7 linked regions of the Homo sapiens genome follow. The protein of the gene in region 3 purifies or fractionates together with the protein of the main gene of each other region. This does not show direct contact. Each region holds a gene or a part of one and is shown on either strand. Other genes may lie near its edges. The genes, in order: CHP1, TBC1D24, SLC6A5, RAB35, ARL6IP5, SURF4 and VKORC1L1.

What was found.
Region 1: the proteins of SLC6A5 (region 3) and CHP1 purify together in Homo sapiens (affinity purification with mass spectrometry; one large-scale study listed by BioGRID and IntAct). This does not show direct contact.
Region 2: the proteins of SLC6A5 (region 3) and TBC1D24 purify together in Homo sapiens (affinity purification with mass spectrometry; one large-scale study listed by BioGRID and IntAct). This does not show direct contact.
Region 4: the proteins of SLC6A5 (region 3) and RAB35 purify together in Homo sapiens (affinity purification with mass spectrometry; one large-scale study listed by BioGRID and IntAct). This does not show direct contact.
Region 5: the proteins of SLC6A5 (region 3) and ARL6IP5 purify together in Homo sapiens (affinity purification with mass spectrometry; one large-scale study listed by BioGRID and IntAct). This does not show direct contact.
Region 6: the proteins of SLC6A5 (region 3) and SURF4 purify together in Homo sapiens (affinity purification with mass spectrometry; one large-scale study listed by BioGRID and IntAct). This does not show direct contact.
Region 7: the proteins of SLC6A5 (region 3) and VKORC1L1 purify together in Homo sapiens (affinity purification with mass spectrometry; one large-scale study listed by BioGRID and IntAct). This does not show direct contact.

Annotation. Positions count from the first base shown.
Region 1 is NC_000015.10:41,279,328-41,282,387, reverse strand, and holds the end of CHP1 (calcineurin B homologous protein 1), read right to left. Parts: intron 3,053-3,060; coding exon 2,999-3,052; 3' UTR 501-2,998; downstream 1-500. UniProt on the Homo sapiens protein: Calcium-binding protein involved in different processes such as regulation of vesicular trafficking, plasma membrane Na(+)/H(+) exchanger and gene transcription. Involved in the constitutive exocytic membrane traffic.
Region 2 is NC_000016.10:2,478,127-2,481,626, forward strand, and holds part of TBC1D24 (TBC1 domain family member 24), read left to right. Parts: intron 1-3,500. UniProt on the Homo sapiens protein: May act as a GTPase-activating protein for Rab family protein(s). Involved in neuronal projections development, probably through a negative modulation of ARF6 function. Involved in the regulation of synaptic vesicle trafficking.
Region 3 is NC_000011.10:20,627,108-20,630,607, reverse strand, and holds part of SLC6A5 (sodium- and chloride-dependent glycine transporter 2), read right to left. Parts: intron 2,629-3,500; coding exon 2,525-2,628; intron 1-2,524.
Region 4 is NC_000012.12:120,106,754-120,110,253, forward strand, and holds part of RAB35 (ras-related protein Rab-35), read right to left. Parts: intron 1,715-3,500; coding exon 1,664-1,714; intron 1-1,663. UniProt on the Homo sapiens protein: The small GTPases Rab are key regulators of intracellular membrane trafficking, from the formation of transport vesicles to their fusion with membranes.
Region 5 is NC_000003.12:69,098,437-69,101,936, reverse strand, and holds part of ARL6IP5 (PRA1 family protein 3), read right to left. Parts: intron 99-3,500; coding exon 1-98. UniProt on the Homo sapiens protein: Regulates intracellular concentrations of taurine and glutamate. Negatively modulates SLC1A1/EAAC1 glutamate transport activity by decreasing its affinity for glutamate in a PKC activity-dependent manner.
Region 6 is NC_000009.12:133,360,964-133,363,512, forward strand, and holds the end of SURF4 (surfeit locus protein 4), read right to left. Parts: coding exon 2,530-2,549; 3' UTR 2,513-2,529; coding exon of another isoform or gene 2,501-2,512; 3' UTR 501-2,500; downstream 1-500. Other genes in the region: SURF2 (surfeit locus protein 2), read left to right, coding at 93-176. UniProt on the Homo sapiens protein: Endoplasmic reticulum cargo receptor that mediates the export of lipoproteins by recruiting cargos into COPII vesicles to facilitate their secretion.
Region 7 is NC_000007.14:65,876,074-65,879,573, forward strand, and holds part of VKORC1L1 (vitamin K epoxide reductase complex subunit 1-like protein 1), read left to right. Parts: intron 1-3,500. UniProt on the Homo sapiens protein: Involved in vitamin K metabolism. Can reduce inactive vitamin K 2,3-epoxide to active vitamin K, and may contribute to vitamin K-mediated protection against oxidative stress.

The sequences.
Region 1 (3,060 bases), on a different chromosome or scaffold from region 3:
TGTAATCCCAGCTACTCAGGAGGCTGAGGCAGGAGAATTGCTTGAACCTGGGAGGCGGAGGTTGCAGTGAGCCAAGACTGTGCCATTACACTCCAGCCTGGGCAAGAGTGAGACTCCATCTCAAAAAAGAAATGCAAAGAAAAAGCCATGTAAAACCAGAGTATGTCACCGCTGAGGCTGCACATGAATGAGGAGGTGGGCAATTTAAGGAATGGACATATACTGGATTTTTAGGCTTTTTCTACATTTAAGGAGTCAGGGAGTCAAGAATAGAAATTGCGTCTTAGCTGGAATGAATGGGAAGTGGCCACGGCTGACAAAACCATGTCGAAGCCAAAAGTGCTGGCCCCTCGATGAATGTTTCCACTTCATATATCCAGGCAGCAGCAGAGTAGACTGCAGCTGACCGTACAGACATAAACTTGAGTAAGGGAGACACTGTGATTTCAAACTTGAAGGGACTAAGTTACATAAAATTCTTGTAAAATGGACAAAAGTTATTTTGTTTCAACCACAAGTATTTATTGATGGATCGAAGATACAATTTTAATGGAACAATAAGGCACAACCGTGGATTAAAACACTTTGCTATACAGCCAAAAGGGGGGAAAATCTATAACCTTAGGAACTTTATGCCAATCAAGAAGCCTCTAAAGTACCTCTCTAATAGATCAGTATCAGACATTCTTCCCTTTTACATAATTCCTATATTACATCACTTAATCATAAAATCTGACTGATACTTCATAAAGAATTCCTCATTCATTTATATTTGAGCCATCCAGCCTGGCTACTCCCCTGTTCTCCACCCTTTTCCATCACTTTGCAGTGGTATTTTTTAGCAATCTTCAATAGTTTTCCAAAGCAAGGAAACAAGCAAGCAAGCAATGAGTCAGAAAGTCAACCAAGGGCAGATGTGTGGCTAAATACACTCATAGAGACATACATTAGGATAGCAATAGCCTGATTCACTGAAGTCTAAACTAAGCTGACTTGGCAGAAAAGTTGCTGTGGCTCGCTCAAAGATCTGTAATGCCACCTTAGGTTGTGCTACTAGTGCCAGACCTCTTGTTTTTAAGGGATTAGCAGTGGTCTAAACAAGAAGCCAGGGAGCTAATGTAACCAGGCAGCTAATGACACAACAGTCAATGCTTTGGACATGTATTAGGAGCAGACTATGGCTTCCGTCATTAACATTTGCCAAGTGTAAAATTCATAAAGAATTTTGCGGCTGAGCACGGTGGCTCATGCCTGTAATCCCAGCACTTTGGGAGGCCGAGGCAGGAGGATCACCTGAGGTCAGGAGTTCAAGACCAACCTGGCCAACATGGTGAAACTCCCTCTCCACTAAAAATGCAAAAATTACCCAGGTATGGTGGCACACGTCTGTAATCCCAGCTACTTGGGAGGCTGAGGTGGGAGAATTGCTTGAACCCAGGAGGCAGAGGTTGCAGTGAGCCAAGATCACGCCACTGCACTCCAGCCTGGGTGACAGAGTGAGACTCCATCTCAAAAAAAAGAATTTTGTGCAAAACTTCAAGACACTAAGGAAACAATCTTTAAATATTTTGGACTGGGGCCAGGCGTGGTGGCTCACACCTGTAATCCCAGCACTTTGGGAGGCTGAGGCAGGCGGATCACGAGGTCAGGAGTTCGAGACCAGCCTGGCCAACATGGTGAAACCCTGTCTCCACTAAAAATACAAAAAATTAGCCGGGCATGGTGGTGCACACCTGTAATCCCAGCTACTTGGGAGGCTGAGGCAGGAGAATCACTTAAATCCAGGAGGCTGAGGTTGCAGTGAGCGATCGCACCACTGCACTCCAGCCTGGGTGACAGAGCAAGACTCTGTCTCAAAAAAAAAAAAAAAAAAAAAAAAAAATTTGGACTGGGATATTAGGCACTTCCGTAACACTAATATTTCTACTTGGAAATGTGAAGTGGAAAACATTCCAGTGCACATAACACTGAGGCATAAACCATGCTGCAAAGGTGTGAATGCATGAGGCTTTATAGGGTGCCCAGCCTCCTTATTAAATAAAAGCCATGAGAAAGTCCCTAGGCATATTGTCAGAGCAGCCATTCTGGTGGTAACGGTGTCCCCAAACTAAGCAAACCTGTAAGCATACTGCTGCTTTTTCAACAGTCAACATTGCACTAACAAGAGGAGCCACACAGGTACAAAGTTGAGAATCAGAGGCCAGAGATAGAGTGATGTGGGCAAGCAACCTAGAAGACTTGGCTCCATACCTCTCACCAAGGCCACCTTTCAAAAAGGGTATCTCCACCCAGCAGCCTTTGATGACAGAGCAGAGTGCAGAGGATGGTCTCATACTTCTGAGAGAAGTATTGATTACCAAAAAGCTCCTGAAGAGGCAACATCCCAGAGGCCCATTTAATAATGAAGGTAAATAAAAACTGCCAGACCCCTGAACTATCCTGCCAAGTCAGAAATACATATATAGGACATAGCTTGTGGTGCCAAGTAGAACAGAGGAGATTTTGAGGCTTAATGAAAAGCAGAAAGACTGCCAGAGTAAGTGAACAGTATGTTGGAAGACAGGGAAGTAGGAAGCAAAGAACATATAAAAAGGATGAAGAAGCATGCTGGCAGACTCGCTGGAGGGAAGGCAGCAGGGCTACAGTCTACATCTGGTGAAAGAGCTTTGCTGGCTTGTTCTTGGCATGATTGCCTCTCTCACTTTCTCAGACTGGATGGATGTGTGGCATTCAGCAGCAGAATGGGGAAGATGATATTTATAAATGAAGAACTAGTGAATGGATACTGAACAGAAATATATAGGGTGTACCATTCTGTAATGCCCTGTTTATACACCAAAGGCAGGTTTGTGTTGACAGAACATATTTGGGGTTGTCATGCAACAGCAGTAGTACTTTGGGAGAAGGGGAATGAGGGGGTGGAGGTGGAGTTGGTAGAAGGAGGACTTTCAAGTTCCAGTTCTTAAATACTAGACCGCAAGGAACAGTTTGGTCTCCTTTAGTGAAGAAATCGGATGCTCATTTTCTGTTCTACATCCACCTTCTCCAAAACCTGGGGGA
Region 2 (3,500 bases), on a different chromosome or scaffold from region 3:
GGCACACCCAGAGAGACATCAGCACAGAAAAGAGCAAGACTCAGCCAGGCCCGGGGGCTCACACCTGCAAGCCCAGCATTTTGGGAGGCCAAAGCGGGAGGAACACTTGAGCCCAGGAGTTGCAGGCTGCAGTGAGCTATGATTGTTCCACTGCACTCCACCCTGGTCAACTCTGTTTCAGAAGAAAAAAGAGAGCAAGACTCTGAGACAAGTGGTTGCAGGATGGGAAGAGCCAGGGAGGAAGGAGGGGATGTTCCAGTATTGAGCAGCGGGCAGTGCCACACCCCATGCAGAGTGTGGAGGGAGGGGGCGGGCTGGCACCGTGTGGAGATGGCGATGAGGTTACTGCGAGACTGGGCAGTAAGCATATGTGTTTTGGCCTGGAGCCAAGGAGAGTGTACTAGACGAGAGCATTTTGGGGATGCTGTGTGCCATCCAAGCTGGGGACTGGGTTGGGTCTTCCCAGGAGAATGTGCAGAGTGAGAAAAACGAGACGGAATCCTGAACCCTGTGGACTCCTAATACAGTCTTAAAGTCAGTAAGGTAACAGAAGGCCAGTCAGTAACCCGTTGCCTTTTGGGGGAATGGGGCAGGGTAGTGGGCTTTTTTCTTTTTTTTTTTGTTGAGACAGGGTCTCGCTCTTTCTCCTAGTCTGGAGTGCAGTGTCAGGATCAGTGGCTCACTGTAGCCTCGACCTTCTGGACTCAAGCGATCCCCTTGCCTCAGCTTCCCAAATAGCTGGGACGATAGACTTTTTTCTTTTTTTTTTTTTTTCGAGACAGGGTCTCATTCCCACTGCCGAGGCTAGAGTACAATGGAGGGATCATGAGATCATGGCTCACTGCAGCCTCGACCTCTCGGACTCAAGCAGTCTTCCCACCTTAGTCTCCTGAGTAGCTGGGACTATAGGCGCACACCACCATGCCTAGCTAATTTTTGCATTTTTTATAGAGACGGGGTCTCACTTTGTTGCCCAGGCTGGTCTCAAATTCCTGGACTCAAGCAGTTCTCCCACTTTGGCCTCCCAAAGGCTGGGATTACAGGCATGAGCTACGGTGCCTGGCCTGGCCTTTTAATTTGTCTCTTGGAGTGAAGGATGGAGTATGGGACGGGGGGGATGCCAGTGTCCTTGCAGTGGCCTTCCTGTCTCACGTGTCTATTTGCCTTTTGGGGAACCTCCAGCTTCAGTGTCGCTCTTCTCAAAGGACCTAGTTCACCTGCAGTCTGAGGGTTGCTCGTCTCAGACGTTCCCACAGGTAGGGCTCTGAGAAAAGCCTTCTCAGACCGAGAGACCCAAGGCTGCAGAGCCCTCAGGGGCACCTCACTCTCCTTCCAGGACCCTGTTTCTGTGTGGTCCATCAGCATTGGCAGCAGGTACAACTTTGGAAAAAGTCTGCTGAGAACAGAGGCCACGTGTGTGATGCGTCCCCCACCCCCTGAGTCCTCCACCTGAGGGGTGGAATGGATGAGGCCGGGGAAAGGCTGTGCTGCAGAAGCAGCCCCTATCTGCCCGTGGCCAGCACGTGGTCCCCCAGGGCTGGCTGAGCCTCTGGATAAGGCTTGAGCTGTTATCTACACCCTCCAACAGAACCTGCTCACAGGGGCGCAGGCTTCATGGCCTCCGAGGACTGTGCATATGCAGCCATGGCTTCCTGCAACCCTCCCCAGTGTGTTCCCTTCTTTTTTTCTTTTCTCTTTTTGTTAATTGTTTTTTTTTTCTTTTGAGATGGAGTTTTGCTCTTGTTGCCCAGGCTGGAGTGCAGTGGTGCAATCTTGGCTCACCACAACCTCCGCCTCCCGGGTTCAAGCGATTCTTCTGCCTCATCCTCCCTAGTAGTTGGGATTACAGGCGTGTGCCACCATGCCCAGTTAATTTTGTATTTTCAGTAGAGACGGGGTTTCACCATGTTGGCCTGGCTGCTCTCGAACTCCCGACCTCATGATCCGCCTGCCTCGGCCTCCTAAAGTGCTGAGATTACAGGTGTGAGCCACCGTGCCTGGTCGTTAATTGTTTTTTTTTAAGAGACTGGGTCTTGCTCTGTTGTCCAGGCTGGAGTGCGATGGTGCAGTCACGGCTCACTGCAGCCTCAACCTCCTGGGCTCAAGCCATCCTCCCACCTCGGCCTTCTGAGTGGCTGGGACTACAGGTTCTTGCCACCACACCTTCCTGATTTTTTATTTTTTTGTAGAGACAGTATCTTACTATGTTGCCCAGGCTGGTCTTGAACTCCTGGCTCAAGGGATCATTTCACCTCAACCTTCCAAAGTGCTGGGATTACAGGCATGAACCACTACACCGGCCTGTTCCCTTTTTCTTGCAGGTCATTGAGAACACACCACAGGGGACCTGGGAATCTACTGAGGATACAGATTTCCCACAATCCGAGACTGTGTGTCTGCCTGATTGTTACATAATTTTAATTGGGTGCCACACACCGAGAGAGGTTGTTTACTGGTGGGCCATTCGGTTTCCAGTAAAAGCCCTTCCACTCACTGTGGCATGGTAAATGGAGCTCATCACATGGTCCCTTCAGCCTTTCCTTGAATCATTTCCACCCCTTCCCTAATTACCCTCTGTGATCCCTTTCCCGGCAAGGGTCCTTCTAGCCTTGCTACCTTGGTAAACCTGTGGCCTTAGGATCGAGGTGTGGACATTAACTTTTCTGCTCTGGCGGCTTCCTGGGCTGTCCTCTCCATGTTCCCAGCACTCAGGGGCACTGTCCTTTCCTGGCAGCCTAGTAAATCCCAGGCCTCTGTTTTGGGCCCTTTGGCTTCTTGGTGCCTGTTATGCTGAAGCGTAGAAGTGTCTTAGTCAGAGCCCCAAAGGACACTCACCGGCCCACGTTCTCATGGAGCTGGGTAGCTCTGACCAGACTTGCCCTCTGGGGCCCTGTCCTTTGACCACGCTGTCTCTATCCCTTCTGAGGCTAAGGCTTCCTCACACTGCAAGATCCAGCCGAGGCAGGCCTTGGCGCTGGGAAAGCACCGTGTCACAGCACCTGCACCTTGAATTGGCATCGTCAGTACACCTGACCCGGGCTGGGGTGGGGCCATGCCTCTGTACTCCTCTGCACTCAGGTACCTGGCACACTGGCATTCGGGAAGCATGTCTTGAATGCCTATTAAAATGATTAGGACCGGGCGTGGTGGCTCACGCTTGTAATCCCAACACTTTGAGAAGGCAAGGTGGGAAGATTGCTTGAGGCCAGGAGTTTGAGACCAGCCTGGGCAGCATAGTGAGACTTTGTCTCTACCAGACATAAAAAGTAAATAAAAATAAAATGATTAAACATGCACAACTCCACCTCGAGCTGGATCTCTCCTTAGGTCTAAAGACACTTGCTGAGAACCTGATGTGTGCCTGGCCTTCCAAGGCACACCTGTCACTGGCTTGGAACTCAGACCAATCAAAATGCCTGTGCTGCTGACAGCTGAGCTCTCTTCCTCTGGTTCTCCTCCTGTGTCCTGGGGGTGTTTTTCCAGACCTGCTGTGGGGAGAA
Region 3 (3,500 bases):
CACATGTTTGTCTGCACATGTGTAGGCATATACGTGTACGTTCATGTCCTAACCACAGGCTCCCTTGGGCTCACTTAAAAAGCACCAAAAGGCTCAGACGATATCCCCTAATAGCCCTGATTCAGGGCCTGTGGGCCAAAGCTCTGACTCCACGATCTATATAAATGGGTCTCAACTCATCTGCTGTGGTCTGAATCCCCCCATCTCAAATTCATTGGCTGAAACTTAATCCACAATTTGATAGTATTAAGAGGTGGAGGCTTTAGAAAAGTGATTAAGTCATGAAGACAGAGCCAACTCATGGGATTAGTGCCCTTATAAAATAGGCTGAAGGGAATGTGTCTGCCTCTTCCACCATATGAAGACACAGCAACAAGGTGCCATCTTTGAAACAGAGAGCAGCCCTCCAGACACTGAATATTCTGGCACCTTGAACTTGGACTTCCCAGCCCCTAGAGCAGTGAGCAATAAATTTCTGTTGTTTATAGCCAAAAGTCAGTTAAAGATACAAAAATATAGCTAGGTAGGAGAAATAAACTCTAGTATTCTATAGCACTATAGGATGACTATATTAACAACCATCCCAGCCGGGCACGGTGGCTCATACCTGTAATCCCGGCACTTTGGGAGGCCAAGGCAGGTGGATCACCTGAGGTCAGGAGTTCGAGACCAGCCTCACCAACATGGTGAAACCCCGTGTCTACCCAATACACACACAAAAAAAAAAATTAGCGGGGCATGGTGGCACATGCCCGCAATCCCAGCTACTTGAATTGCTTGAACCTGGGAGGTGGAGGTTGCAGTGAGCTGAGATTGGCCATTGCACTCCAGCCTGGGCAACAAGAGCGAAACTCCATCTCAAAAAAAAAAAAAAAAATCATCCTACAGCACTATGAGATGACTATATTAACAACAATTTATTTTATGTTTTCAAACAGCTAGAAGAATGAACTGTCAGTGTTTTCAACACAAAGAAATGATAAATGTTTGAGGTAGTAGATATGCTAATTACCCTGATTTGATCATTACACATTGTATACATGTACCGAAATATCATACTGTACTCCATAAATATGCATAATTACTATGTGTCATTTAAAAATAATAAAAGCAAAAAACGTATAAAGAAAAAATATTACTCAGTCTATGGCATTTTGTTAGACAATCTGAACAAACTAAGACATTATTCCAGGGGCAGAGGTAAATCTGTTCATCAGAACAGAAATTGAGGAGATGGGGCCTTGGTCGGCTCCAGGACAGGAACTATGTGTGAGGGAAGAGAAGGCAGTGGGAAAGTCAAATGACCCTAAAATGTGAGGGTAGCCTGGAGTTGGGACACACAGGGTTGAGAAGGACAAAGGGGCAGGGGAGGGAAGAGAGCCCAGTGTCTCTACCTTCATCGCAGAGCCTGCTGCTGGTAAGATAGCCAGGGTTTCCCAGTCTACCTTCAGTCATCCTAGATTCAAATGTGAGGTCACAGCTAGACGGGCTACACTGTAACCCAGGGCTACACTGAAATCCTGGTTCTCCTGCCTTTTAGTGGCATGACCTTGAGCAATCCACTTCCTTTCCACTCTGATTTGAAATGGCAGCAATGAGTCTATCTGTCATAGGCTGTTGCCAGGAGAGAATGAGATGATACCTGTACTATGCACCGCCTAGCACAGAGCAAGTGTGCAGCAAATGATCCACCTTGTCTGACCCCTTAGTTTACTGAAGAGGAAACTGAGGCCCAGGGAAAGGTAATGGACTAATTAATAGTGTGGGCCAGGATATGAATCTAGATTTTCAAGCTCTCAGCCTGGGTTATTTCTGCCACACCACAGCCTCATTTCTAATAAAGAAGATAGCAATGCTTCACCCTTTAATGGTGTTCAGACTGATTTGGGTCAATGGTTAATGAGCAGTTGTGACTAATGAAGTTTAAATACCATAGTCTGTTACTCAAGGTCATTTTGAACTGAATTGTGTCTTCCTACCACTCCCCTATCACTACCAAATTCATATTTTGTCATCCTAATCACTAGCATCTCATAACGTGACTGTATTTGGAGATAGGGCCTTTAAAGAGGTAATTAAGTTAAATGAAGTCATTAGAGTGGTCCCTGATCCAATGTGACTGATATGACTGGGGTCTTTATAAGAAGAGGAGATTAGGTCACAGCCCCACACAGAGGGAAGACCATCTGAAGGCACAGTCCATTGTATCCACAGACTAGGTAGCTCACAAATGACTGTCACAGAACACAGCCAACTGCACAGTGACCTGCAGACAAACTTGCTTCCATCCTGTAAATAGCCACTGAGCCTCCCCCATGTGTCAGAGCCAGGTGTGTAAGTGAGGGTCCAGGCCTTCAGAAGATAGTGCCTAGGCCTTAGCAGGTGGTTTCTCCTAGGCCAGAGGCAAATCTTTAGCTCTCCCTAAGATGAAATGTGAGGATGTGGCCTCAGGTGTCTGATAACTCAGTCCATTCTTCTGTCCCACTCACCAGCTATGCCCAGATCTTGTAGTACCTCTACATACCTGTAGCAGTTGTTGTGGAATTTGTTGTAAGAAGAGAGAGTGATCAGGCCTCCCCATGCAGCAGATAAAGAGAAGAAAATCTGAGTGGCAGCATCTTTCCACACCTGAGAGGCAAAAGGGAAAGAGATTCAAGACCCATGAAGGAGACTGGCGCCAGGGGAGAGGAGTCACACACCCAGTGCCATATCATGTTTCCAGGGGAAACATCAGGGACAAGATGACCCCCGACATCAACATCAATGAGAACATAAATCACTTGTGCTGGAAACCAAAGGCATAGTCAATTACCTGGGAGATTTTAACTTCCTCTATCAAAGGTGAGGAACTCAATAAACTACACTACATACCATGCTCATATGTTCTCTCCTGTAAAGCTAAACGGAAGGGAGAGTCCTTCCTTTAGGTCAATACACTCTCAGAAAATAATAATTTACAACAGAAAAATATAACAACGGATGCAAAATCAAAACCCTTTTTAACTGACATTTCTGCAGATTACAACTGCTATTAAATTTCTGAAACTCTGTAGCCCCAATCTCAGTAAAGCAACCTCTATGCCGCTGCAGACTTTATAGTGTCACGTCCTACCTGCTATTAAGTGGAGACTTTCTGTTTTGTGCAATCAAACTCAATCCTAGCTATGCAATCTTAACACATCCTGGAAAAGCAGAGTTTTCCTTTAAGGTGAGAAAATTCAGTTCCCCTTCAACAATCACCCCCTCATTTGTAGTTTTTGAATTGGAAATTTTAGAGTTAGATATGCCTGTACAGAATATGCAAAGACAAAGTTCAGCTTGTGCTGGCCCTGTGTGGGTGCACAAAAGTATTCAGATGTGTCTGAGCCCTTAAAGGGTTCAGGTAAAAATATTTTTAAAATAGAATCGCTTGTGGTTTACACTAAGTGCTGTTATTTTCCCACCAGCAAAACTACCCTTCCGACACTCTATAATTAGCAACAGATAAGTGATGTGAGTTG
Region 4 (3,500 bases), on a different chromosome or scaffold from region 3:
CATTTTTTTATTTTTAGTAGAGACAGAGTTTCACCATATTGGCCAGGATGGTCTCAATCTCCTGACCTCATGATCCACGCGCCTCGGCCTCCCAAAGTGCTAGGATTACAGGCGTGAGCCACCGCGCCTGGCCAACGGAATCACTTTCTAAAGGCAGCCCAGCCATGTCAGAGGGAATTCTCCACAAGATAATCAGAGATGTCAACCCCACCCAAAGCATCTGTAATGAACCTGATTTTTTTTGTTGTTTTTTGAGATGGAGTCTCGCTCTGTCGTTCAGGCTGGAGTGCAGTGGTGCCATCTCAGCTCACTGCAACCTCCCTCTCCCGGATTCAAGCAACTCTCCTGCCTCAGCCTCCCCAGTCGCTAGGATTATAGGTATGCACCACCACGCCCAGCTAATTTTTGTATTTTTAGTAGAGACGGGGTTTCACCATGTTGGTCAGGCTGGTCTCGAACTCCTGACCTCATGATCCACCCGCCTCGGCCTCCCAAAGTGCTGGGATTACAGGTGTGAGCCACCGCACCCGGCTGAACCTGATGTATTTAACAAACAAAAATGTGTTCCATCTTACCAGTGATTAGGGAAATACAAATGTAAACAAGTTAGCCCTTTTTGCCTATCAGCTCAGCAAGAATGAAGACAGCTACTAAGATCCAGCACTGACCAGGGTTGACAAGGGGCACTTTCCACCCTTCAGTGGGACTGGATTAAATGACTCCAGCTTCTTTGAAAAGCAGGTTGGCAGTACCTATGAAAATTCTCAGTGCATACACCCTGTAAGCCAGTAACCCCACTTCTACAGAAACACGTGCACAAGAATAAGTATCAGCTGGGCGCAGTGGCTCACGCCTGTAATCCCAGCACTTTGGAAGGCCAAGGTGGGTGGATCACCTGAGGTCAGACGTTCGAGACCAGCCTGACCAACATGGTGAAACCCCATCTCTATTAAAAATATAAAAATTAGTCGGGCGTGGTGGCAGGTGCCTATAGTCCCAACTACTTGGGAGGTTGAGACAGGAGAATTGCTTGAACCCAGGAGGCAGAGGTTGCAGTGAGCCGAAATCGCGCCACTGCACTCCAGCCTGGGTGACAGAGCAAGACTCCATCTCAAAAAAAAAAAAAAAAAAAAAAAAAGAATAAATATCGCCTATATCCCAAGTAGCTAAGCATCGCTGAAAACACAACCAGAAGTCAGGCACGATGTAACAGCAGCGTCAGTGCACCATGTGGTGCCTTCAAGCACAGAAAGCCCACCGCACTCAGATGAACCACAAAGGCCTGCATGTGGAGCGCAGAAAGAAATCAGAAAGACACACGCTGACCACAGGCTGCCAGGGAGGCATAGGGGGCAGGAGCAGGGACTGTGTCCCGGGTGGCACCATAGACGCTGTTATGGGAACCTTCCTGTTTGGACCATGGGTGGGAAAATGATGGGCCAGCCAAAGGGTTTTCGTGAGCAGGTGCATTAGACAGACCACAGAGGCTTCTGACAGAAGCGCCACAAGGTCCTAAGCCCCACTCCATCTTCTTCCCTCCTCTGGCAACCAGAATGAGACAGTTCCCAACATCAGGCAGAGGCAACTCTGTTTGGTGCCAGGGAGGGGATGTCAACAAACAAACAAAAACGACACCCCAGCAGCACTGCAGGGGAGGACTCACCTGAGAAAGTGTTGTCTGCAAAACGCAACAGTAAACTGCTCTTGCCCACACCTGCAAGAGAGAAAGCACTGCGATGAGGGGGGCAGGTGGGTCCCCTCCCCGCAGCCCCAGCCCTTCTTCCGGGAGAGGATGCCTCAGTCCCAACTCTTAAGAAGCTCGGTGGGACCCAGCTCACTTCTCAATGCTCTTTCCACCTCCCTGAGCGGCCACACACCAAGAACATCTCTTCCACTCGATCCCTGACCTTTTCCTTCGTCCTTGTGTAAGACAAGCTGCTCCCAAATCCCCTGGGGGAGAGATGAGAAAGGGACTGGTGCCCAGGCCCTAGGCTGAGGGCTGGCCCAAAGGGAGATGCCAGACGACAAAGCAGAATGAAGGTCAACCACACGAAACGGCCCCCAAGTGCGTCTACAACATGGTCCCTAGAAAAGTGCACAGCACGTTGTAGCACATCAGTTAGGGAGCCGCCCAAAATGAAGAGCTGTAGAGCGGGAAAGGACCCTTGAGATCATCAGGGCTATTTTGCAGGTGAGGAAACCAAGGCCCACATAGCTAGAACTCAATGGCTACCATCTTTCTGGCTGATGTCCCCGCCGGGTGGGCTGGTGGAGTGGAGGGTCTGCCTTATACCCATCAGGGCAGCAGCCCACATGTGCTCAGACCATGCACCAGCCACAGCAGCTCCTGGCTGCTTAGAGCACAAACATGTACACATCTGGCCTCCCCCACTTTTTTTGTAAAGAAATGGGGTTTCAGGCCAGGCGCGGTGGCTCATGCCTGTAATCCCAGCACTTTGGGAGGCCGAGGCAGGCGGATCACCTGAGGTCGGGAGTTCAAGACCAGCCTGACCAATATGGAGAAACCCCGTCTCTACTAAAAATACAAAATTAGCTGGGCGTGGTGGCACATGCCTGTAATCCCAGCTACTCGGGAGACTGAGGCAGGAGAAGCACTTGAACCCGGGAGGCGGAGGTTGCAGTGAGCTGAGATCATGCCACTGCACTCCAGCCTGGGCAACAAGAGCGAAACTCTGTCTCAAAAAAAAAAAAATGGGGTTTCATTCAGTCACTCAGGCTGGAGTACAATGGTGCAATCATGTCTCACCACAGCCTCCAACTCCTAGGCTCAAGTGATCCTCTGACCTCAGCCTCCCGAGTAGCTGGGACCACATGTGCATACCATCATGCCCAGCTAATTTTTTTATTTTTAGTAGGGACAGAGTCTGGCTACGTTGCCCAGGCTTTTTTTTTTTTTTTTTTTAATCTTTTGTAGAGACGAGGTCTTGCTATGTTGCCCAAGTTGGTCTCAAACTTCTGGCCTCAAGCAACCCTCCCGCCTGGGCCTCCCAAAGCGCTGGGATTACAGGCATGAGCCACTGCGCCTGGACCTCTCCCCTTGACTTCAACTCACAGTGCTTTCAGCCTGCCAAGTACACCTGTTCCATGTCCTCCTATCCTGTCCCCAATCTCCAACACCCCTGAGGCCAGCCAAGTTAATTGACCACAAAGAATTCACATGCATCGGGCTGTGTGTGTGGTGAGCCCTTGGATGCCTCTTTGATTATAATTCTGGCCACATCTCTTGAGATGAGGAACCTCAGGCCCAGAGTGGCCGGCCTAAGTGCCTCTGTGAGCAGCAGTAAAGCTGAGATCTGCATCCAGGCCGGACTCCTCCAGAGTGCTAACACTCCTCCCAATACACATTGCTGGGAGTCTTGCGTCTGGTTCAGGAAGTTTGGAAAAAATGACCTGTGGGGGCTCCAACATCTCACTCCTGTTAGATTTTTAATGAAAATGCCACGAAAGCTATGAAACCCCCTGAAACAAAGTGCAGATTT
Region 5 (3,500 bases), on a different chromosome or scaffold from region 3:
GGCGAAGGACGTCTTTATTGTGGGCTGCCCACACAAACCCTGTGAACACCAGCACCACCACGATTCCTCCCAGGATCATGTTGAAGGGACTCAGAAACCTGAAATATGAGGAAGAAAAAATGAGGGGTGACTAGTTCAGCAATAGAAGTAGCAAAAGGAGAAAGAGGAGTAAAAACAATTATTGAGAACTTACTAATACTTTAATACTTTATCTAAATTGTCTCATTTGATTTCTCATAACCTTATAAAGGAGATACTATTAGTTCATTTCTCAAATGAAGAAGCTAAGGCACAGAGGTTAGAAAATGGTGGGGAAGGCCAGGAATGGTAGTTCACACCTATAATCCCAGCACTTTCAGAGGCCAAGGTGGGAGGATCACTTGAGCCCAGGGGTTCAAGACCAACCCAGGCAACATGGCAAAACCCATCTCTACAAAAATATGAAAATTAGCCAGGTGTGGTGGCACACACCTGTGTTCCCAGCTACTCAGGAGGCTGAGGTGGGAGGATCACTTGAACCTGGGAGGTTGAGTCTCCAGTGAGCCAAGATTCCCCCACTGCACTCCTGGCTGGGTGACAGAGTGAGACCTTATCTCATTAAAAAAAAAAAAAAAAAAAAAGGTGGAGCTGAGATCACACCCAGGCAGTTCCCATCAAAGTATCTCGTTAGAGGTCCACAATTTTGAAGACTAAAACTTCTTTTGAAGGTACTATGTTTAGCTTCCTTACATCCTGGGCTCTAGTACACAGTAGGTTGTGTTTTCTTAGCTCTAAAGGTTTATTTAAATCCTCAGAGAAGCTCATGATGGACGAATGTAGAATACAGGCCACATAATGGCCTCCATGGGCTAGATCCAGTATACAGTCACATTTTTGTTTGGCCTGTACAGTGTTTTAAAAAACTTTTACTTGAAACCCATGTGTTAAAAAAAAATCCAGAAAACTTGGGATTTCTTGTTCTCCTGGAACAAGAAAATAACAGTGCTAGGCCCACTTTCCCACATGTCAACAGCTGGCTTGAGTGCCTTCTCATTCAGACAGAATAAACAGTCTCCATTGAGCTCCAGTCCACACTGCTCTCTACTGCATCATGGACACATAGGCCCAAAGTGAGGTGCTATTAATCACTGTTTTTCTTTTTTTTTTTTTTTTATTTGAGACAGAGTCTTGCTCTGTCACCCAGGCTGGAGTGCAGTGGCGCAATCTTGGCTCACTGCAACCTCTGCCTCCTGGGTTCAAGCAATTCTTGTGCCTCAGCCTCCCGAGTAACTGGGATTACAGGTACATGCCACCACGCCCAGCTAATTTTTTGTATTTTCAGTACAGGTGGGATTTTGCCATGTTGGCCAGGCTGGTCTTGAACTCCTGGCGTCAAGTGATCTGCCCAGCTCGGCCTCCCAAAGTGCTAGGATTACAGGCATGAGCCACACCATGCCCAGTCTAATCATTGTTTTTCTAATAGCTGGCCTGAATCGCTCTCTTACATAACCTGCCTGCCCCATGGAGGCATTTGAGTTTATGACTCCTCACATAGAGAGTTCATTATAAGTGTTTTAAAATGCCCAAAGTATCATTAGGAGATGAGTTACCAATGCAGATTTTCAAGCACACAGTTCCAGATTCATTCTTATATAAGCCAAATGTTTAGTATGTAATAGCAATTACACTACTATTGATAATGGAGGAAACACATTATGTAGAAGAAATTTATGCCAGGCATGGTGGCACACACCTGTAATCCTAGCACTTTGGGAGGCCTAGGTGGGTGGATCACCTGAGGTCAAGAGTTCAAGGCCAGCCTGGCCAACATGGTGGCACCTCATCTCTACTAAAAATACAAAAATTAGCTGGGCGTGGTGGTACATGCCTGTAATCCCAGCTACTTGGGAGGCTGAGGCAGGAGAATCACTTGAACTCAGAAGGTGGAGGTTGCAGTGAGCTGAGATCACGCCATTGCACTCCAGCCTGGGCAACAAGAGCAAAACTCTGTCTCAATAATGATAATAAGAAGAAGAAATTTAGACAAAGTTTTGGGCATTATAGTCGCCCACCCCAATCCACTGTGTATACAAAACCCTTAACAAGACGTCTGTGGTGGGCTGGTACAATGAGTTACTTAACTTTTTACCCTAGAGGCTAATGAGGACTTTACTTGGGAAGGACACAGACGATAGTGTGTTCTCCTCATGCCCTGAATAGTAACATTGCTGATTTGAAATGAGGGAAGGGGGAAGACAGGATAAGGGAGGGTGATGCCAAGAGCTTACTTTCTCTGAAATGGAAGAGATGAAGAACTCATGCTCATATTGGGATTCGTATTCAGGATAAATACAATTCTTTTTCAAAAATCCCTTTAAATTTTAGCTCTGTTTCTGCCTACTGAAACATAAAAGGAATTTTGAACATTTTAAAATTAAGAGTAAAAGCTTTTCACACCTGAATGGGTGAAATTAAGGGATAAAATCAATGTCAAACTGCTTTGAAAAAGCTAAAAATTTCTATTAAGATGCACAAAGCTAAACAGTGGTAAGAGTAGTTGCATATAATTTTTTTTTGTTTGTTTTTTTGAGATGGAGTTTCACTCATTGCCCAGGCTGGAGTACAATGGCGCGATCTCGGCTCACTGCAACCTCTGCCTCCCAGGTTCAAGCAATTCTCCTGCCTCAGCCTCCCTACTAGCTGGGATTACAGGCACCCGCCAACATGCCCAGCTAATTTTTGTATTTTTAGTAAAGACGGGGTTTCACCATGTTGGCCAGGCTGGTCTCGAACTCCTGACCTCATGTGATCCACCCCCCACCCCCCCCGCCCCTCAGCCTCCCAAAGTGCTATTACAGGCATGAGCCACCGCACCCAGCCAGTTGTACATAATTTAAAACTAAACTCTACAATAATAAGTTGCTAATTTCATTCAAAATCCTTGCAAATACTTGTATCCTTCAAGCCAATAAATCCCCTCCTCAGAATATAGTCTAAGGAATTAAACAAAAACGCAAAGATTGAGTTGTAACAGTATTGATATTAGTGGTATTTATGATTAAAAACTTTCAGAAACGACCTATATGGCCAACAATACCAATAGCTGTGGTATTGTATACACAGCTATTTTTAAAACATTGAAGTGCATTTAATAATATGGGAAGACATTATATATTGAGTGGGTAAAAGCAATTGTAATACATAATGCATTGTCTGTTAGGTAGATTTATCATATAAGTTAGATAGCTCAGAAGTAGAAGTTTCTAGGCTGAGTACAGTGGCTCAAGCCTGTAATCCCAGCACTTTGTGGGGGCCAAGGTGGGTGGATCTTTTGAAGTCAGGAGTTTGAGACCAGCCTGGCCAACGTGGTGAAACCCCACCTCTACTAAAAATACAAAAATTAGCTGGGCCTGGGCTGGGCATGGTGGCTCATGTCTGTAATCCCAGCACTTTGGGAGGCTGAGGCGGGCAGATCACCTGAGGTCAGGAGTTCAAGACCAGCCTGGCCTACATGGTAAAAC
Region 6 (2,549 bases), on a different chromosome or scaffold from region 3:
AGGCTGTGTGGGTGGGGAGAGCCCTGCACTCCAGGGCCCCTTCTCCATGGGATCAGAAAGGCTCAGTAATCAGAATTTTGTTTATCCCACAGAAGCAGTTGGGCTCGTTGAAAAAGAAGTTCAAGAGTCATCACCGCAAACCCAAGAGCTTCAGCTCCTGTAAACAGCCAGGTTAATAAAAGCACATGCCGTGAAGTTTCGAGAAAGCCTTCAGATATTTCCCCCGCTCCTGATCAAACCGTGTGTCCTCTGAATGATCGGCTGTCCCCAGTGTCTTCTCTACCCACTTATCCTTGTCTCATGACATCTGCTGCCCTCTAAGGCAGGGCTGAGGGAGTCTGTCCCCCACACCCAGGAAGCAGCAGGGACTCTGAGGGACTAATTCTCTCTGGACATGGCTTCTGAGTGGTCTTCAGAGAAGCCTAGAGAAGTAACCTCGCTCACTGGCATCCTGAGGGGAGCCCCATTCAGGCTGGGCAACGCTATAGGATCACACTGCATACAACAAACGCCATTATTTATTTTGATGTGTTTCCAAAAATCAAAACGTTTTCAAACACAACTAAGATATAAAATACAGCATAAAATGAGATTTAGATCTGTTTCCCACATAAAGCAAAAAAATCTTAGAAATTGTTTTGCCAGAATCAATTGGTAGATCCCACTTATCCTCCCCTCCCTGCAAAGGCATCTTCCCGAATCAGGCCCTAGCCCACCCAGGGCCAGGAGAAACAGGAACACCCACTAGGACGGAGGCGCTGCTGGTGCAGAACTGGTGCTGACTGCTCACGTGGCCTCCTTTGGTCCACCCTACTTTCCACCAATCAGCCAACCAACCTTGACCACAGAGAAACCGTGACTTGGCCAAGGTCATTTGATGGGGGCTGTCATACGGCACTAACAGGGAGCGAGGTGTGGACCAAGAGACAGCCCTGGTGAGGTTGAAACACTGAGACAAGCCAGTCTTCATGCAGTGAGCACTTGAATGATCACAGGAGAAGAGAACCCATGTCCTGAAGCCATTGCTCGATCTTACCAATATTCGGGGGTAAGGAAGTAGGCTACCAGGGGAATATTTGCAAACGCGTTGGGACTAGTTCGGCTGTGTTAAAAAGGTAGGTGACTTCCAAAAGCACTTATGAGCAGAAACCTGCCTCACCCCTGCCCTGCAGAGCCAATGGATGAGAGGCCAAGAGGGAGGCAGGCTCGGGGCTGGGCCGCAGCAGCCCTGGAGACAGGCTGAGCCAGCCTGTCCCCAGATAGGTCTAGGGGCCAGAGAGGTGTTCGACTACCCTTGTGGCATTTACTATGGTGCAGACGACAGGGAGCAACAAGCAGTTAAGCTCCCCCAAAAAGAGAAACACAGTATAAGGCAGTGTTAGAAAACTTTAAATACAGGATTAAGATCAAATCGGTAAGGCATCACAAATTGTAAAAAGGAATTTTGGCTGCATTCGGCATAGCAAACGGACAATCTGAGTGAGCGACAGCCTCAGGAAAGTGGTGTGTCGGGGCTGTCCACAGGGCGAGTGCAGCTGGGAAAGGGCGGTGCTGCTCAGCCAGGGCGGCCTGCGCTTTCGAGACCTTGCTCAGAAAAGGCCCCATGTGAGGTAACTGGGTTGAGTCCGTGGGTCTCCAGTGCTGGGAGCTCCTGCCACACCCCCTGCCCACAGCGGCTGCGGCTCTGCAAGCTGGTCTGAGCAGCTGGCCAGGCTGGCTTGCAGGGTGCTGCTGCTGGGGCTACCCCTGTGTGGTCTCACTAGCCCTTCCCACTGCCAGCTTGGAGGCCAGCAGCACCCAGACCAGCAGCTTCCCCAAGGACTTCTTGCCCCTCCACCTTGCCTCAAGCTACTAAAACTCCCAGGGTGTTACCCAATAAAACACTTGGCACCAATCCAAGCTGATTTTCTGACCGATGACTTTTATCATAAACAGCAGCTTCTACCACCCCTTTAATACTGCATCATTCTTTGGGTGTCCCTAAATGTTTTCACTATTCCTATAAAATACAATGCGGGGCAGAAACAACATCAAAGCCACTGGTGTGATTTTAAACCAGGGAGATTAACTGTTTTGAGGTTTGGCTGAACCACCCAAAATAATTTAGTAGTTTCCGCTAAAAATGTAAACTTACAAATAAGAGGGAGACTGCTTTGAATGATAATACCAATGCGTCTGCTCACAGTACAGCTTGAAGGCCCCCTCCTGTACCCCCACAAAAAAACTCAAAAATAGGACTGAGATGCCACAGCCAAGCGGGCTGTTCACTCCAAAGCCTCGGCGTGGGGGAGGCTTCCAGCTGCCAGGCTGGCCTGCACTGAAGGGTCAGACGCCAGACTGTGGCTCCAGAGCAGACTGAGCCATCGATTCTCAGGTGTCTCTGCAAATAAAGTTCTCAAAACATCTGTGCCTTTACCAAGGGAGGGGAAGGGAAGAGGATACATAAAAGCTGGCAGTTTTGTTGAATCCACCCCGAACCAGTCCTTGACGGCCACGGGTCTTAGCCAGGCAGGTAGGGATCTGTGACTGTTACCACTCCTTCTTCTTCT
Region 7 (3,500 bases), on a different chromosome or scaffold from region 3:
TATTTCTAAAGAAATATTTCACCGAAATTAGTAGGCTACAATAGAAATGCTGATTTTTCAATTCTACCATGTACAGCCAGTAAAAACAATAACACACCACTATCTCCTGTCACCATCATTTCATTTAACAAAAGGATATTTCCATTCAAACAATTTGAAAGAACAGAATCTCTCAGAATAAAATATTTTTAAATGGAATCATTTAGCTATATGGAAAAGTTTACTTTCAGACCAGCCTGGCCAACATGCTGAAACCCCGTCTCTACTAAAAATACAAAACAAGCTGGGCGTGGTAGCATGCACCTGTAATCCCAGCTACTCGGGAGGCTGAGGCAGGAGAATCACTTGAACCTGGGATGCAGAGGTTGCAGTAAGCCAAGATCGCGCCATTGCACTCCAGCCTGTGTGACAGAACGAGACTCTGTCTTTAAAAAAAAAAAAAAAAAGTTTACTTTCGTGTCCTTACTTTTTCCCATTTTCCCATAAATCGGTGAAAACTCTGCTGCAAACCTGCACCAGCCTGCCAGCTAACATTCAGTTAGCAGTCCCTGCCCCCTTGGTTTGGTACACTGAGCTCAAATCTAAGGGATCTGGGTGGGCTTCCACCTCTCCCAGTTCTTAGGCTTGTGGCCTTATCTTCATGGTGCCTCAGTTTCTTATGTTAAATAGGGCTTTTAACACCTACTTAGGGCCTGGTGCAGTGGCTCACACCTGTAATCCCAGCAGTTTGGGACGCTGACACCTGGCAGACCTCTTGAGCTCAGGAGTTTCAGACCAGCCTGGGCAACAGGGCAAAACCGTGTCTTTACAAAAAATACAAACGTTAACCGGGCATGGTGGCGCATGCCTGTATTTCCAGCTTCTTGGGAGGCTGAGGTGTGAGGATCACTTGAGCCTGAGAGGCTGAGGTCTGCAGTGAGCCATGATGGTGCCACTGCACTCCAGCCTGGGTGGTAGAGAGAGACCCTGTCTCAAAAAAAGAAAAACAAAAAAACCTACTTTGCCAGATTAGTGTTACGATGAAAAGTGATACATGTATGTTCCTGAAATAAAGCCTGTCCTCAGTTATAGCTGTTACCATTGATTGGAGATGTTCTTTTTTTTCCAGTGTTTGATAATAAATGCCTTTAAGTATAAGTTTCTTGTACATACTTGTTTATATGTTTAAACATTAATTGTTTTAATGTAGTTTATTGCTGACTTTATAGCATAGTATAAAGATGTGTTCATTTAAAACAATTTTGAAGTTGTGCAAGAGAAACTAATGCAGAATATTCTTTTTTTTTTTTTTGATGGAGTCTCGCTGCTCTGTCACCCGGACTGGAGTGCAGTGGCATGATCTCAGCTCACTGCAACCTCCACCTCCCGGGTTCAAGCGATTCTCCTACCTCAGCCTCCCAAGGAGCTGGGATTACAGGTGCCCACCACCATGCCCGGCTAATTTTTGTATTTTTAGTAGAGACAGGGTCTTGCCATGTTGGCCAGGCTGGTCTTAAACTCCTGACCTCAGGTGATCTGCCTGCCTCAGCCTCCGAAAGTGCTGAGATTATAGGCATCAGCCACCGTGTCCAGCTGTAATATGCAGAATATTCTATGTAGGTATTTTCTATATATAAGACCCCCTCTAAGAAGGGTTTCTATGTAAGAATAGTACAAATGATCTGGAAAGGTTAATAGGCTTGACAAATCTATGTTTCTTAAAACTGTAAAAATAGTCTGGTTGTCCTATGGTCTATGTATAGAACATATACCATAGGGGATTGGTTTCAGGACCCCTGTTTTTACTGAGATCCTGGCATACTCAAGTCCCCACTGTGGGCCCTGCAGAACCTGAATGTGAAAATTTGGGCCTCCATATATGCAGGTTTCGGTCTGCATTTGGTTGAAAAAGATCCACGTATAAGTGAGCACACACAGCTTAAACCCGTGTTGTTCAAGGGTCCACTGCATTTGAAAATCAAGTCCATAAAAAAGTTGCCTTATTTTACAAAATGTCGGATTACTACCTCTCCCATATCTTAAAAAAAAAGTACCATCTATTTACTACCCCATTGAGATAATAAAACTTTTAGAATTAGAATAGAACCTAGGGCTGGGCATAGTGGTTCACGCCTGTAATCCCAGCACTTTGGGAGGCTGAGGTGGGTGGATCACCTGAGTTCAGGAGTTTGAGACCAGCCTGGCCAATATGGTGAAACCCCTTGTCTACTAAAAATACAAAAAATTAGCCGGGCATGGTGGTGGGCACCTGTAATTCCAGCTACTCGGGAGGCTGAGGCAGGAGAATCACTTGAACCCGGGAGGTGGAGGTAGCAGTAAGCCGAGATTGTGCCACTGCCCTCCTGCCTGGGCAATAAGAGGGAAACTCTGTCTTACAAAAAAAAAAAAGAACCTAGAAGTATTTACTGCTCTTTGCTTTGTCTGAGACTCAGAGGTTAAGTGACTTGCCCAAGATAGCACAGGTAGTAGCAAATTGAGACTTGACACCTGGCTTCCAGAGTACTTATTTAAAGTCCCCTTTGCACCCCCATTTTAAAAATTAAATTCTTGGCTGGACGCAGTGGCTCACGCCTGTAATCTCAGCACTTTGGGAGGCCGAGGTGGGCGGATCACGAGGTCGGGAGATCAAGACCATCCTGGCTAACATGGTGAAACCCCGTCTCTACTAAAAATACAAAAAAAATTAGCCAGACATGGTGGCACACGCCTGTAGTCCCAGCTACTTGAGAGGGGCTGAGGCAGGAGAATCACTTGAACCCGGGAGGTGGAGGTTGTGGTGAGCTGAGGTCGTGCCACTGCACTCCAGACTGGGTGACAGAGTGAGACTCTGTCTCAAAAAAAAAGAAAAATTAAATTCTTGTCTAGGTAAGGCATTCGCTGCTTCGGATTTGAAAGATAACAAAGCATGTACAGTGAAAAGTCTCCTTCATATCCCTTCCACCAGACAGTTCTCCCGCTCAGTAGACCGCTGTGAAACTTTTCAGAGCCGTTTGACACATAGACAAACATCCACGTGACCATATGATTCCTCCCTTTTTTTAACATGGAAGTATCACGTATGCATCCTTATTGATAGCCTGCTTTTTGCTTGGCATTCGTTCCATTGCTCCCATACTTTAAATGCTTATGTTCATATTTAGTGAAATGTTAATAACTGCTAGTACGTAAAAGAGAATTTGTTCTAGTAGTTTTGACTAACCAAGATAAATTTCAGAAATAAAATTCTTAACATTATCATTGTTTCTTGGTATGGAAATTTCAGAAGCAGGTTGAACTGAAAAGAGTCCAAGAGGAATAGAGAAATATCACAAGGAAGTGAATCTGGACTGTAGTAGAGATAAATGTTAATACTTACAGATAATGCTTACTATGTGCTAGGCAGTGTTCTAAATGTTTTGCATACATTATTGAAGTCTCTCAAGAGTCCCATGAGGCAGGTAGCTTTTATCACCATTTTACACATGAGAAAACTGAGCAACGCAGACTAACACTTGATCCAG